4 linked regions of the Homo sapiens genome follow. The protein of the gene in region 2 purifies or fractionates together with the protein of the main gene of each other region. This does not show direct contact. Each region holds a gene or a part of one and is shown on either strand. Other genes may lie near its edges.

The links. Proteins that work in one complex are often made in the same cells at the same time.
Region 1: the proteins of LMO7 (region 2) and PIP purify together in Homo sapiens (co-immunoprecipitation; one large-scale study listed by IntAct). This does not show direct contact.
Region 3: the proteins of LMO7 (region 2) and ALB purify together in Homo sapiens (affinity purification with mass spectrometry, with the first as the bait; one large-scale study listed by BioGRID). This does not show direct contact.
Region 4: the proteins of LMO7 (region 2) and RAB3IP purify together in Homo sapiens (affinity purification with mass spectrometry, with the first as the bait; one large-scale study listed by BioGRID). This does not show direct contact.

Annotation. Positions count from the first base shown.
Region 1 is NC_000007.14:143,135,077-143,137,697, forward strand, and holds part of PIP (prolactin-inducible protein precursor), read left to right. Parts: intron 1-117; coding exon 118-223; intron 224-2,621.
Region 2 is NC_000013.11:75,800,330-75,803,829, reverse strand, and holds part of LMO7 (LIM domain only protein 7), read right to left. Parts: intron 3,147-3,500; coding exon 2,948-3,146; intron 1-2,947.
Region 3 is NC_000004.12:73,414,287-73,417,826, forward strand, and holds part of ALB (albumin preproprotein), read left to right. Parts: intron 1-748; coding exon 749-881; intron 882-1,969; coding exon 1,970-2,067; intron 2,068-3,244; coding exon 3,245-3,383; intron 3,384-3,540. UniProt on the Homo sapiens protein: Binds water, Ca(2+), Na(+), K(+), fatty acids, hormones, bilirubin and drugs. Its main function is the regulation of the colloidal osmotic pressure of blood. Major zinc transporter in plasma, typically binds about 80% of all plasma zinc.
Region 4 is NC_000012.12:69,755,860-69,759,399, forward strand, and holds part of RAB3IP (rab-3A-interacting protein isoform alpha 1), read left to right. Parts: intron 1-545; coding exon 546-804; intron 805-3,540. UniProt on the Homo sapiens protein: Guanine nucleotide exchange factor (GEF) which may activate RAB8A and RAB8B. Promotes the exchange of GDP to GTP, converting inactive GDP-bound Rab proteins into their active GTP-bound form.

The DNA.
Region 1 (2,621 bases), on a different chromosome or scaffold from region 2:
AGCCCCATAATTTCCCTCCCTTGCCCATCCTGTGCCCCTTGCCCTGTTCATGGCTCCCCCCTCACTCAAAGATTGGTCTCTGATCCTGGTGTTCTGATTCTCTCTTCCCACAATCAGTCGGAAGATCATAATAAAGAATTTTGACATTCCCAAGTCAGTACGTCCAAATGACGAAGTCACTGCAGTGCTTGCAGTTCAAACAGAATTGAAAGAATGCATGGTGGTAAGTAGAGGACTGGGGGCGTGACTTCAAAAGATAATTCAACTCCTTGATTATAAACATAATTTAATCTCTCACTTTAATAATGTACAGTGTACTTAATGAAACATTCTCACTTATGTTATGCTACTTGAGACTCAGAACAACTGTGGGAGCTTGGGACAGATGACTTCTCATTTTCCAGATGAAGAAGTTCGAATCCAGAGAAGTCTAGGATAAATAAGAAGGAAAGGAAGAAGGAATAGGAAGTGAGAAAGAGGGAAAAAGAAAAAAGTGTAAGAGCTAGTAGAGAAGCAGTTAGAGTCCTTCCAAGGTCCTGAGCATGTTTAGTTTAGGATGGAGGGAGGGGAGTTCTCAGAAGAGAAAGCAGCAACTCCACACCATAGGTTGAGGTGGGTGGGCAGAAGAGGACATGCAGGATATGACTCCTCCTCTCCAGTAAGCACTGAGCGACTCTACTGTCCTCTTGCCTTCTTCTGCTCCTTTGCTCTGGGTCACCAGAAGTGGACTCTTGTTCCAGCCTCCCCACCCTGACAAGGAGCTCGTAATCATCTCCTCCTTTTCCCCACGTTCAGAAGTCCAATCTCTGAACAAGGTCAGAGGTTTTCAAATGGTAATGTGTCTAAAACTCACTCGGGGATCTTGTTAAAATTCAGAGTTTCATTCAGCAGGTCTGGGGAGAGATTAGAACTTCTGGATTTTAACAGACGCCCAAGGTACACCAAGGCTGTGCCCAAAGGATCACATTTTTGAGCAGCTTGGGATTAGAGCATTATCCCTCCTGTCTAGCTGCCAAGGGCCAGAAGTCAAATAGACTTATGCAGTTATTAATCCACAGTGACTCTTCCCTGGGACACTGGTTGTGTGTCCTTTTCCTAGTCATTGATCTCAGATGTCACAAGCATGCAAACTGCCCCCACTACCTTTGTTCTAGGGCCAAGACCCATGCATCTCCCATCTCCCCTACTCCCTCCCCAGACCCTTCATGAAGGACACCTTCTATCAGGCAGCACAAGTATTTCCTTACAACATAAGTTTCCTAATTCAAATGAGACTTAAGGACAATGATTACATGTAAAACAACATTGAGAACATGAAGATTGCTATTCAGTCAACTGCATTCTAGAAATATCCCCACACCTGTAAAGAAAAATTCCTGGTCAATGAGCAAAGAATATCACAGCTGCTTTGTCAAATTTTTCTATTTTCAGTCCAAGAATCTGAGACATGTACACTAATTTGGGGTAGGAGCAAGGCTGAATCATAATTTTTCAACTCTGTATTTTGTTTATCACAAACACAGGTGAGAATGAGAATAAGAACATGTACATAATGTGTACATAAAATTTTTGTGAAAATGGTGGTTTCTGGTGGTAATAGTTAATGGTAGTGGTAGGTATAATAAGATATGTTTGAATCAATAAAATTACATGTGACATAATTTTGTGCTTTTGTGATTAATAAAAGTATGCTTTTAAGAATCATGCTAGTACTCTAAAATAAAGCAATCTTTTCAAAACCCACCTAAGCACAACTAAAAGAATAAGAAATCTTTAGACTAACTGACTTTGCAAACTAGAAATAATTTACAGGAAAGGAAATTTTGTTAATTCTAGTCAACAAATTTTTATTTGTGGCTTCATTTTTCAAAGTATAACTATTTTTAAATTTTTATTAAAATATATTTATATAACTATAAAATTCTTACCATCTAATCCTCATTTTTTATCATTTATAATGTTTTCTGTAACTGAATTTTTGAAAAAGTGAGGTTTAGACTCATATTTATTTATTTTAGAATTAGAATAGAATATACCTACAATCGTATATTTGAATATAAAGATTGCATAATCCTTTAAAGCTGAAGGAAACTTGTGGCAAAAACAATGCTTAAACATTTTTGTGCTACAGGCCATTTCGTTGGTTTCATGAAGTTTATGAAACATTTATCAGAAAATTGCTTCTAAATGTATAAAGTGCATTGGATTACAGAGAGAAACTACCACATTGAGTAACAGTGACTAACTTGTAAAAAATAAATTTGTGATGCAGTAAGGTATGTGTTTCTTTATGCACACATTAGCTGGGAAAGCAATACATTTAAAATATAGAAGAGTTGAATTTTATTCTATGAACACATTATCTGTGTGATGGATGTTGTTACTTAGCTTGAAGAAGTACATTAAACTGCACTGGTCTTTGGCAACACGTCCCACGTGCCATGCTAGGCATGCAACGGATTCTGATCTTTTATTGTACAAGTGGTGTAAATTCTGATTCATGACGATATGTTGTTGCTAATGTAACAGAAAGGTAAACAAGGCCGGGCACAGTGGCTTGTGCCTGTAATCCCAGCACTTTGGGAGGCCAAAGTGGGCAGATCACCTGAGGTCAGGAGTTC
Region 2 (3,500 bases):
AAGAAAAAAAAAAACAAGCTTGTAAAGGGTCTGGATAGATTCTATAAACCAGAATCACACATTAGATATGAGGCTGGACTGGATGACTTCTAAAGTTCCAAAGGAATCTGAAGTCTTATGCCCAAATGAGAGCACAGAACTCACAGTTTCTTCAGAGTGGCCATGGAAATTATATTGGGAACGCTGTATTATGATTCAAAATCATTTAAACACAAATTCAAAAGAACACCCTTTGATACTCCTCAAGGTCAGATAGATACAAATAGTAATCTGCTTTCTTAAAAGAAGAAGAATGAATCTACTCTTTTAAAGACAAAGGAAGAAAAGGGGGGAGAACAACACTACAGATCCAAGCCAAGCTGTCCCTCTTTCACACCCTTCTCTTCCTGCCTCCTGTGCACTTGTAAAGGTTTGGAAATGTTACTTGCTTCTCACCAGGGTTCTCTCCAGGCCTGGCTGTGCACAGTGCCTGACAGCTACAAGCTCTCAGCAGGTAGAGCACCTGCAGGGTTAACCTGAGTTAAATGCAGTCTCTTCCCCTCCCTCCTGCCTGGCAGGAAGCTACAGTAAATAACACTGAGAACAGTCTACAGGAAGTCGCTTAACATACAGCTATGAGACAGGGACAGAGTAAAAGGAGAGTAGAGTCTTGGCAAAAGAGGGAAAGTAAACGCAGCTGTGACCATGAGGAGTAGTAGTCAATAAACTGGTGCTTTCTTTTTACCACCTTCTAAAAAATCAGACATTTATTTCTCATTTCCAATAAGTATATCAATTACTCCTGCCGAAATCCATACATGTGGAATTTTAAAGTCATAAAGAGACTATTTTACTTTCTAACTTTTAAGAAAAAGTATTTTTTAGCCCAGTACGGTGTCCTGCAGAGAATTTTTTCCCCCAAAGTATCATTCTTGATATGAGTTTTCACGTAAAACTAGAGAATGTGACATTGCAATTCTGTTATCCTAAAAATATTACCCTACATTATAGTGCTCATCAATTTAGGACTACAATCTAGAGAGTAGCAGTAGAATTTTAACACACTGATCACAAAAGAGCTTTATCGGCCTGGTGCCTCCATCCCAGGCTTTTTTTCCCCGCTTAGTTGTAATTTCCAAGACTTCACTTACGCACTCTTTAAACAAGGTCTGCAGCCCCATTTCCAAGATCAGAAAGGGATGTGACAGTGGCCTTCTGCTTTTGGTTACATGGACAGGTGCCCATTCCAACAAGGATCTGAGAAGACGACTTAGATTCCACACCGCTGGGTGGGCCACTGCATCTGAACTGACTGAAGCCTGCATATTCCCACATGCCCTCTATCCCTTCCCCTTTTATTCCTTGACTAGATATAAATTCTGTCATTACATGGAGTAGGTTCTTCAGTAAGGGAAAAGAAATACAGCGGGTTCAGAATTTCAGCCTCTGCTTTTACAGCTTTAACCACTCAGATGAATCACATACTCAGATTCATTTCCTTAAACGTATTGGAATCGTCATCTGGGCTATGAAAATGTCACACCTTGACAGCAAACAGCCAATACGTGTGGCAGTAATTATAAAGGTTAATGCTGAAATAGCGTTTCACATTTTTTATTTTTAAAAACTACTACTCTAAAAGATAAAGCCTTCAGGTTTTTTGTTACCATGCTTAATAAATTGTTGATTGGTTTTTTGGAAAACAAATTCATAGCATGTTGTATTTATATAAGTTTCACATCAGAAGTAAAACAAAGAATAAATTCTAGTTAATGATGTTCATACTGAAGTATTTAGGACAAGTGTGATATATTCTGAAATGCCTCAAAAAATAAGATGACTAAATTATAATAGAGAAAGGAGGGAGGGAGAAAGAGAAAGAGAGAGAGAGGAGAGAGAGATGAGTATAAGATAAAGCATGCATAGTAAAACATCATGGTGGAATTAGGCAGCGAATACATGTGTGTTCGCTGTACAATTATTTTAAGTTTGCTGATTTTTGACATTTTTGTCATAGATATGCTAGGAAAAATATCTAGAAATAGAAAAGTAATATTCCAAATACACAAGCAATGTAAAATCCCTAACAATTAAGCACAAATCACAGCCAGAACTCAATGTTTTCACATTGATGTCGATAGAAGCACAGAAATATTTCAAAAAAAAAACTTCACTTGTGGTTTCAATCTAGTCAAATCTGAATAGCTGGAGATGTACACTCAGAAATTGCTGACGCTATACCCAGTAGCCACAGGAATAAGATGTGCATTGAAATAACTGAACTGACCATAAGCTTGGGATTTTGAAAGAAGGTTCCTTCCCGCAACAGAATGTCTCTAACATGTTCCTTTCACACTTGCTCTGTCCTGGGTTAGCTCTGACTCTGAAAGGACCAAAAGAGGATTTCTACCTGCATGTTAGGTGGTGGTATATTACTCAATCTACAAAGTTTAACATAATATTCTATCATGATAGATAGCAATCATTTCTTCTCATCTATAGAAATAATTGTAAAAATATTTTTCTTTTTTTGCTTAAGAGAGTTTTTTTAATCTTTTGAAAAAAGCCAAGGATGAAAGTTACTCAGAAACTAGAAGATTTTTTTTTTTTTTTGCAGAATCTTATATTCCTTTCTATGTTTAGATATATCAGTTTATAGAACTCTTGAACACAAATTAAGCCTGAATCTGGAGAGAGAAGAGCCAGGATAGATTATCACTGATAAAACAGGCCACAATTAACTGTCACCTCTCAGTCCTTTCCAGAAATGAAATTTTTCAAAAATGAAACTATCACCATCATGAAGGAGAAAAAAATAACAAAACCCCCAATTATACTCCAGTCTCTATGAAAATCCACTTCTAAGTGAAATTTTTGCCTAGTTTTTGCTCCATTTTTCTATTCTCTCCTGTTCCCAGTTCTCCCTTAATATGTGAACAAATAAACTGACAGCCAAAACACAACACACCTTCACGCCCCCCTCTCAACGTGATATCAGAGGAGCAGCTTGTCAATGACCTCGAGCCCAAAGAGTCCAAGCTTTCAAAGGAATCTTCTCTCTTATGGTGCCTTGGAGGAGCAAGAAATTCTCCACGTTCAGGACACCAGATGTCACCGTAGCCACTGTCCCTGCCACTTCTTTTCAGGAAGCTGGAGTCTTCGAGTGCCTAAAGAAAACGTTTTTTAAAGAATAGTAAGTTAAATAAACTTCCAAAAAATATAATCAATCGGTTATTACTTGCTTGTTTGCCTAATTTAAGTTGGGTTTTATTTGACATGTAAGGCATGAGGTTTCTCTGTCGGACACAGCAAAAAGCTGATGAAAAACAGAAAATAAATTTGTAATTGTTTGCCCACAACTGATACAATAAGGGGGTATTCAATATTCAAAGTAATAATAAGGAGATATTCAATATTATTTAATAAACTAGTACATATGTTCTATTTAAAAATAAGGAAAATTACTAGTTTAATGAAAGTTCATAGAGTAACATTGAAATGCTAAACTCAGTTATTACAGT
Region 3 (3,540 bases), on a different chromosome or scaffold from region 2:
TTTAAGAACATATCTCTGCCCATCTATTTATCAGAATCCTTTTGAGATGTAGTTTAAATCAAACAAAATGTTAATAAAAATAACAAGTATCATTCATCAAAGACTTCATATGTGCCAAGCAGTGTGTGCTTTGTGTAGATTATGTCATATAGTTCTCATAATCCACCTTCCGAGACAGATACTATTTATTTTTTGAGACAGAGTTTTACTCTTGTTGCCCAGGCTGGAGTGCAATGGTGCCATCTCGGCTCACCACAACCTCCGCCTCCCAGGTTCAAGCGATTCTCCTGCCTCAGCCTCCTGGGATTACAGGCATGCACCACCATGCCTGGCTAATTTTGTATTTTTAGTAGAGATGGGGTTTCACCATGTTGGTCAGACTGGTCTCAAACTCCTGACCTCTGGTGATATGCCTGCCTCAGCCTCCTAAAGTGCTGGGATTACAGGCATGAGCCACTGTGCCCAGCCGACAGATACTATTATTATTTCCATTCTACCGAGAAGGAGACTAAGGCTCTGATCATTTAAATAAGTTGCCTAAGGTGATGCAGTGATATAAGTAGCAGAGCTAGGAATTGAGCCTTGGTAACTTTAACTCTGGACCCCAAGTCCTTAGCTACTAAGCTTTACTGCATGGGGTTTAGTCAAATTAAGACTTTTGGAATATGAGTTACTTTTGAGATTAGCTTTGTGATATTTTTTGTGCTCATTTGTCCAACAAAGTCTATTTTATTTTCATCTTAATTAGGTTTTTGTATGAATATGCAAGAAGGCATCCTGATTACTCTGTCGTGCTGCTGCTGAGACTTGCCAAGACATATGAAACCACTCTAGAGAAGTGCTGTGCCGCTGCAGATCCTCATGAATGCTATGCCAAAGTGGTAGGTTTATTGTTGGAAAAAAATGTAGTTCTTTGACTGATGATTCCAATAATGAGAAAGAAAAATAATGCAAGAATGTAAAATGATATACAGTGCAATTTAGATCTTTTCTTGAGATGGTTTCAATTCTGGAATCTTAAACATGAAAGAAAAAGTAGCCTTAGAATGATTAACAAAATTTAGACTAGTTAGAATAGAAAGATCTGAATAGAGCAATCTCTAAAAAATTTTGATCTTTTTTTCTCTTTTTCACAATCCTGAGAACAAAAAAAAATTAAATTTAAATGTTAATTAGAAGATATTTAACTTAGATGTAAAGTGAGTTAACCTGATTCCAGGATTAATCAAGTACTAGAATTAGTATCTTATGGCAAATTATAGAACCTATCCCTTTAGAATATTTTCAAATCTTTTTGAGGATGTTTAGGAATAGTTTTACAAGAAATTAAGTTAGGAGAGGAAATCTGTTCTGGAGGATTTTTAGGGTTCCCACTAGCATATGTAATGGTTTCTGAACTATTCAGAATCAGAGAAAACTCATTTTTCCTGCTTTCAAGAAGCTACTGTATGCCAGGCACCATGCACAAACAATGACCAACGTAAAATCTCTCATTTTGGAGAGCCTGGAATCTAACTGGAAAGGTGAACTAATAATAATAATATGTACAATCATAGCCATCATTTATTAAACTTTTATTATATGCAAGGCACTGTTTAATTTCATTAGCTTACCTGGTTTACAGAGCAGCTCTATGAGATGAGTGCCATCTTTGCCCCTATTTTAGGGATAAGGATTCTGAAATGTGGAGATGGTAAGTAAAATTGCACAACTGAAGAATGAGTTACATGACTTGGCTCAAATACTGGTCATTGAACTCCAGAGCCTGAATATTCTTAACCACTTACATGATGCAAGCTCACCAAATAAATAGTTCGAATGTATTGTGACAGAGCGGCATTGATATTCATCTATTCATGTGGCTTTGAGTAGGAAGAAGAAAGGATATCATTCTGACCAGAGGGGTGAAAAACAACCTGCATCTGATCCTGAGGCATAATACTATTAACACAATTCTTTTATGTTTCAGTTCGATGAATTTAAACCTCTTGTGGAAGAGCCTCAGAATTTAATCAAACAAAATTGTGAGCTTTTTGAGCAGCTTGGAGAGTACAAATTCCAGAATGCGTAAGTAATTTTTATTGACTGATTTTTTTTATCAATTTGTAATTATTTAAGACTTAATATATGAGCCACCTAGCATAGAACTTTTAAGAATGAAAATACATTGCATATTTCTAATCACTCTTTGTCAAGAAAGATAGGAGAGGAGAGATAAAATAGTTGATGGGGTGGAGAGGTCTATATTTGAATGTAGTCTAAAAATTGTTCTCTTAAGATTGGAAGTATGTAGGCTGGGAGGGTAAATACCAAATCTTGGTATATCAGAACTGAGCATGTCCCTTGAAGGTTAAGAAATAGTTAATGGGCAAATAGAGCATGGCAATATTTTGTAGAGCAGCAAGTAGTAGGCCTTGAATAGATGTCGCTCAAAAAGTAATATGTAAGCTGAACACAAAAATGTAACAAATGAATTTAGATACATATTTGAATATTAAATTCAGGTTGTTTGGGAGATGCACCTAGTCTTTGATGGTTAAACCTTTCCCTCCATAGAAGAGACAGAGACAGAATGGCTTGCTGGACTAATGTCCCAATTCAATAGAGTCTTATCTATGAAGGTTAAAAACAAGAAGAGACATATTATACAGTAGATATTTATTGTGTGGCTCATACACATGGTGCTCTTCTGATTATGGATTTTAGAGATAATAACAGTGAACAAGACATAGTTTCTTTCCTCGAGTAGATTAAAGTCATACATTGACTTTTAATGGTGACTGGCATTCTTAATACATGATTATTATATATTAGGTACCATGTCAGATTAATTATAATACTTTACTACTTTTAATTTAACCCTTGAACTATCCCTATTGAGTCAGATATATTTCCTTCCATTTTCTACTTGTATCTTTCAAGTTTAGCATATGCTGATACATATGAAGCTCTCTCCAGGTTTTATTGAAAGAAGAAATTAATAAATTTATTAATGTCACTGAATTAGGCAACTCACTTTCCCAAGATTATGCAAGTGGTACAGGTGGAACTCAAAGCCAAGTTTAACTAGTTGTTCAGGAGAATGTTTTCTACCCTCCACTAACCCACTACTCTGCAGATGGAGATAATATGATGAATGGAACATAGCAACATCTTAGTTGATTCCGGCCAAGTGTTCTCTGTTTTATCTACTATGTTAGACAGTTTCTTGCCTTGCTGAAAACACATGACTTCTTTTTTTCAGGCTATTAGTTCGTTACACCAAGAAAGTACCCCAAGTGTCAACTCCAACTCTTGTAGAGGTCTCAAGAAACCTAGGAAAAGTGGGCAGCAAATGTTGTAAACATCCTGAAGCAAAAAGAATGCCCTGTGCAGAAGACTATGTGAGTCTTTAAAAAAATATAATAAATTAATAATGAAAAAATTTTACCTTTAGATATTGATAATGCTAGCTTTCATAAGCAGAAGGAAGTAATGTGTGTGTGTGCATGTTTGTGTGCATGTGTGTGTGCATGCACGTGTGTGTATGTGTGATATTGG
Region 4 (3,540 bases), on a different chromosome or scaffold from region 2:
TTGCAAGCCATGCAGTCTCTGTTGCAACTATTCAACTCTGCCTTTAGAGTTTGAAAGCAGCCATAGACAGTATGTAAATGAATGAGAGTGGTTGTGTTCCAATAAAACTTCATATATGGATGCAGAATTTTGAATTTCATTTAATTTTCATGTGTCACAAAATATTCTTTTAAAGATTTCTTTTCAACTATTTGAAATTGTAAAAACTATACTTGGCTCATTGATACCTTATAAAAACGGGTGGAAGGCTTGGTTTAGCCTGTAGGCTATAGTTTGTTAACCCCTGCTCTTGAGTAGCACTGTCCTGTAGAACTTTCTGTGTTGATGAAAATGTTCTATTTCTGTGCTATCTAATATGAATGATAGGTATTAACCACATGTAGCTATTGAGCACTTGAAATGTGGCTGATATGACTGAGGACATACTATTTATTTAAATATAGAAGCTACCAAATTGGGTAGTACAGTTCTAGAGCTGTGTGTTTAAGCCAGTTCTATTGGAGCATATGCTGATATTTTCTGAAAAATGTCTCTCTCCTTTACAGCTTTCATGTTACAGACCCAGCCCCTTGCTCTACCTCTGGAGTCACAGCTGGATTAACTAAATTAACTACAAGAAAGGACAACTATAATGCAGAGAGAGAGTTTTTACAGGGTGCTACTATAACAGAGGCTTGCGATGGCAGTGATGATATTTTTGGGTTGAGTACTGATAGTCTGTCTCGTTTACGAAGCCCATCTGTTTTGGAAGTTAGAGAAAAGGGCTATGAACGATTAAAAGAAGAACTCGCAAAAGCTCAGAGGGTAAGAAAGAAGATATTTTATTCTTCCATATATTATATTAGAAATTAGTATTTCTCCATGGGGTGGGGCAACCTGCAGAAATGAAATCATGATGGTTGTACATTTATCCGTCACATATGCCCAGCCTCAGCTCCTGTTAGGCAGCATTTAGGAATCCGTGAAACTGGTTGGGTAGTAAAGAAGTTCCTCTAAGACTACTAACTGGAAAAATGTGGCTCTGTTAACTCTTCTGTGCCCCACTGCATTGCCTGCTCCCTGTCTCGTATTATCTGTAATGCAGATTGAGTGGGCTATATTCCACATGCAGGGTTTTTCCTTCTTACTACATGGCTGACTAAATGGTTATTTACTTGAAGTCACTCAGTCTAAGTCATTTTGTTTTGAGTTTAAGCTGAGTTTGAATATTTTCTGTATCTTACCTTGGAGAATTTTCTTGGTAAATTGTTGTGTTTCCCATTTGGTCATTTTAAAAGTTTCTGCTATTTATTTCCAAACTTGTGGCCATATCTTATTCTTTTTCTGAGTCTGCAGTTAAATTTCAGAGGAAAATTTATAGAATGAAATGCATACATCAGAAAACAGGAAAAGTCTCAAATGGACAATCTAAGCTCCCACTTTAAGAATCTGTAAAAAGAAGAGCAAAATAAAACCAGAGCAAGTAGAAGGAAGGAAATAATAAAGAGCAAAAATCAATGAAATTGATAACAGAAAAAATAGAGAAAATGAGTGAGACAAAATGTTGGTTCTTTAAGAAGATTAATAAAATTGCAAACCTCTAGCAAGACTGACAAAAAGAAGACAGATTTATCAGTAGCAGGAGTGAAATGCAGGATGTCACTGGAGACTCATATCAAAAGTATAATGGAATGATATGAAAAACTGCATATATAAACCTGACAACCTAGGTGAAATACCAATTCACATGTAGAAAATTGAGAAGGTAGGGCAAACATTTATAGGTGTAATATCCAACCTACCATGACATTTCACAAATGTATTCCCACTCTTTCCCTAGCATACTTGTCTCTCATGAGCGTAGTATATTCATTTTTTTAATCCCCAGTTCCTTCCCAAAGGAAAAGGATGTGGTGAGATGTGGTTGCATTTTGTTTCTGTCATCTGGCTCAGACTTTGTTGTCTTAATAGATAGTATTTTATTAAAATCACACATTATATAGAGGTAAAATTTTGAGTATATGTATCCATCTTTGAGAACACATGGTTATTGATCAGAACAGATTGCTAATTTCTTAGCTCACTTGAGAATTTCCTTTGAAATCTCTAATATGCTGTATTTAGAGATACTGTTTGGATAATTGAAATGGTGATGTGTAAACACATATGTGGTGACTTTTATGAAGAGTATAAGTTAGTATTAATATTTACTTAGATCTCAAGGCTTGAAAAGGACTCTTGAATATAAAAATACTTCCTGAATTGTGACAACTTGTGAATCAAACTATGTCAACAGCCATTTTCTTTAGTCTTATCTTAAGAGAGGCCATTTTCTATACTTTTTACTTACTTGGTTAACTGTGTCTTCCTATTTAATACGAGTTTCTTATAGATAGTGTACAGTTAGGTCTTGTTCTTTTGATCCTTTGTAATTATCTCTGTCTTTTAATTGGTGTTTAGACCATTTACATTTAATGGATAATGGTATAGTTTGGTTTAAATTTACCATCTTACTGTTTGTTTTCTGTTTGTCTCATTTGTTCCTTTTTCCCTTTTGTATCCTTTCTTTTGAATTAATTCTGTATTTTTAAAACAATTTCATCTTCCTGTGGCTTTTATCTTTGTTGCTTTAGCGTTTATAGTAGACATATTTAACTTATCACTCTCTACCTTCCGGTGATATATTACTTTACATCTGGTGTACAAACCTTACAAAAGTATACTTTTATTTTTCCCCTCCTAGTTTTTGTGCAATAATTGTTGTATGTTTCACTTCTTTGTGTGTTTAAACCCCACAAAACACTATTGTTTTGCATTAAACAGTATTATCTTTTAAAGAGACTTAAATAATAACAAAGAATCTTTACATAGATAAACATCAGAAATGTTAGCTACATGGGCATCTGTGTGTTCATTCCTTTTTTTTTTTTTTTTTTTTTTTTTACAAGTTTTACTTTTATTTTTGAATGATAGTTTAACGGGGCATACAATTCTAGGTTGATGGTTGTTTTTTTTTTTCTCAACAAACACTTTCATAATTTTACGTCTTTGTCTTCCGGCATCTATCATTGTTGATGAGAAGCCAGCTGTCAATGTAGTTGTCATTCCTTTGTAGATAATTGGTTTTCTTCCTCCTTCTGGTCACTTCTAAGATTTTTTTTTTTTAATTGATCATTCTTGGGTGTTTCTCGCAGAGGGGGATTTGGCAGGGTCATAGGACAATAGTGGAGGGAAGGTCAGCAGATAAACAAGTGAACAAAGGTCTCTGGTTTTCCTAGGCAGAGGACCCTGCGGCCTTCCGCAGTGTTTGTGTCCCTGGGTACTTGAGATTAGGGAGTGGTGATGACTCTTAACGAGCGTGCTGCCTTCAAGCATCTGTTTAACAAAGCACATCTTGCACCGCCCTTAATCCATTTAACCCTGAGTGGACACAGCACATGTTTCAGAGAGCACAGGGTTGGGGGTAAGGTCATAGATCAACAGCATCCCAAGGCAGAAGAATTTTTCTTAGTACAGAACAAAATGAAGTCTCCTATGTCTACTTCTTTCTACACAGACACA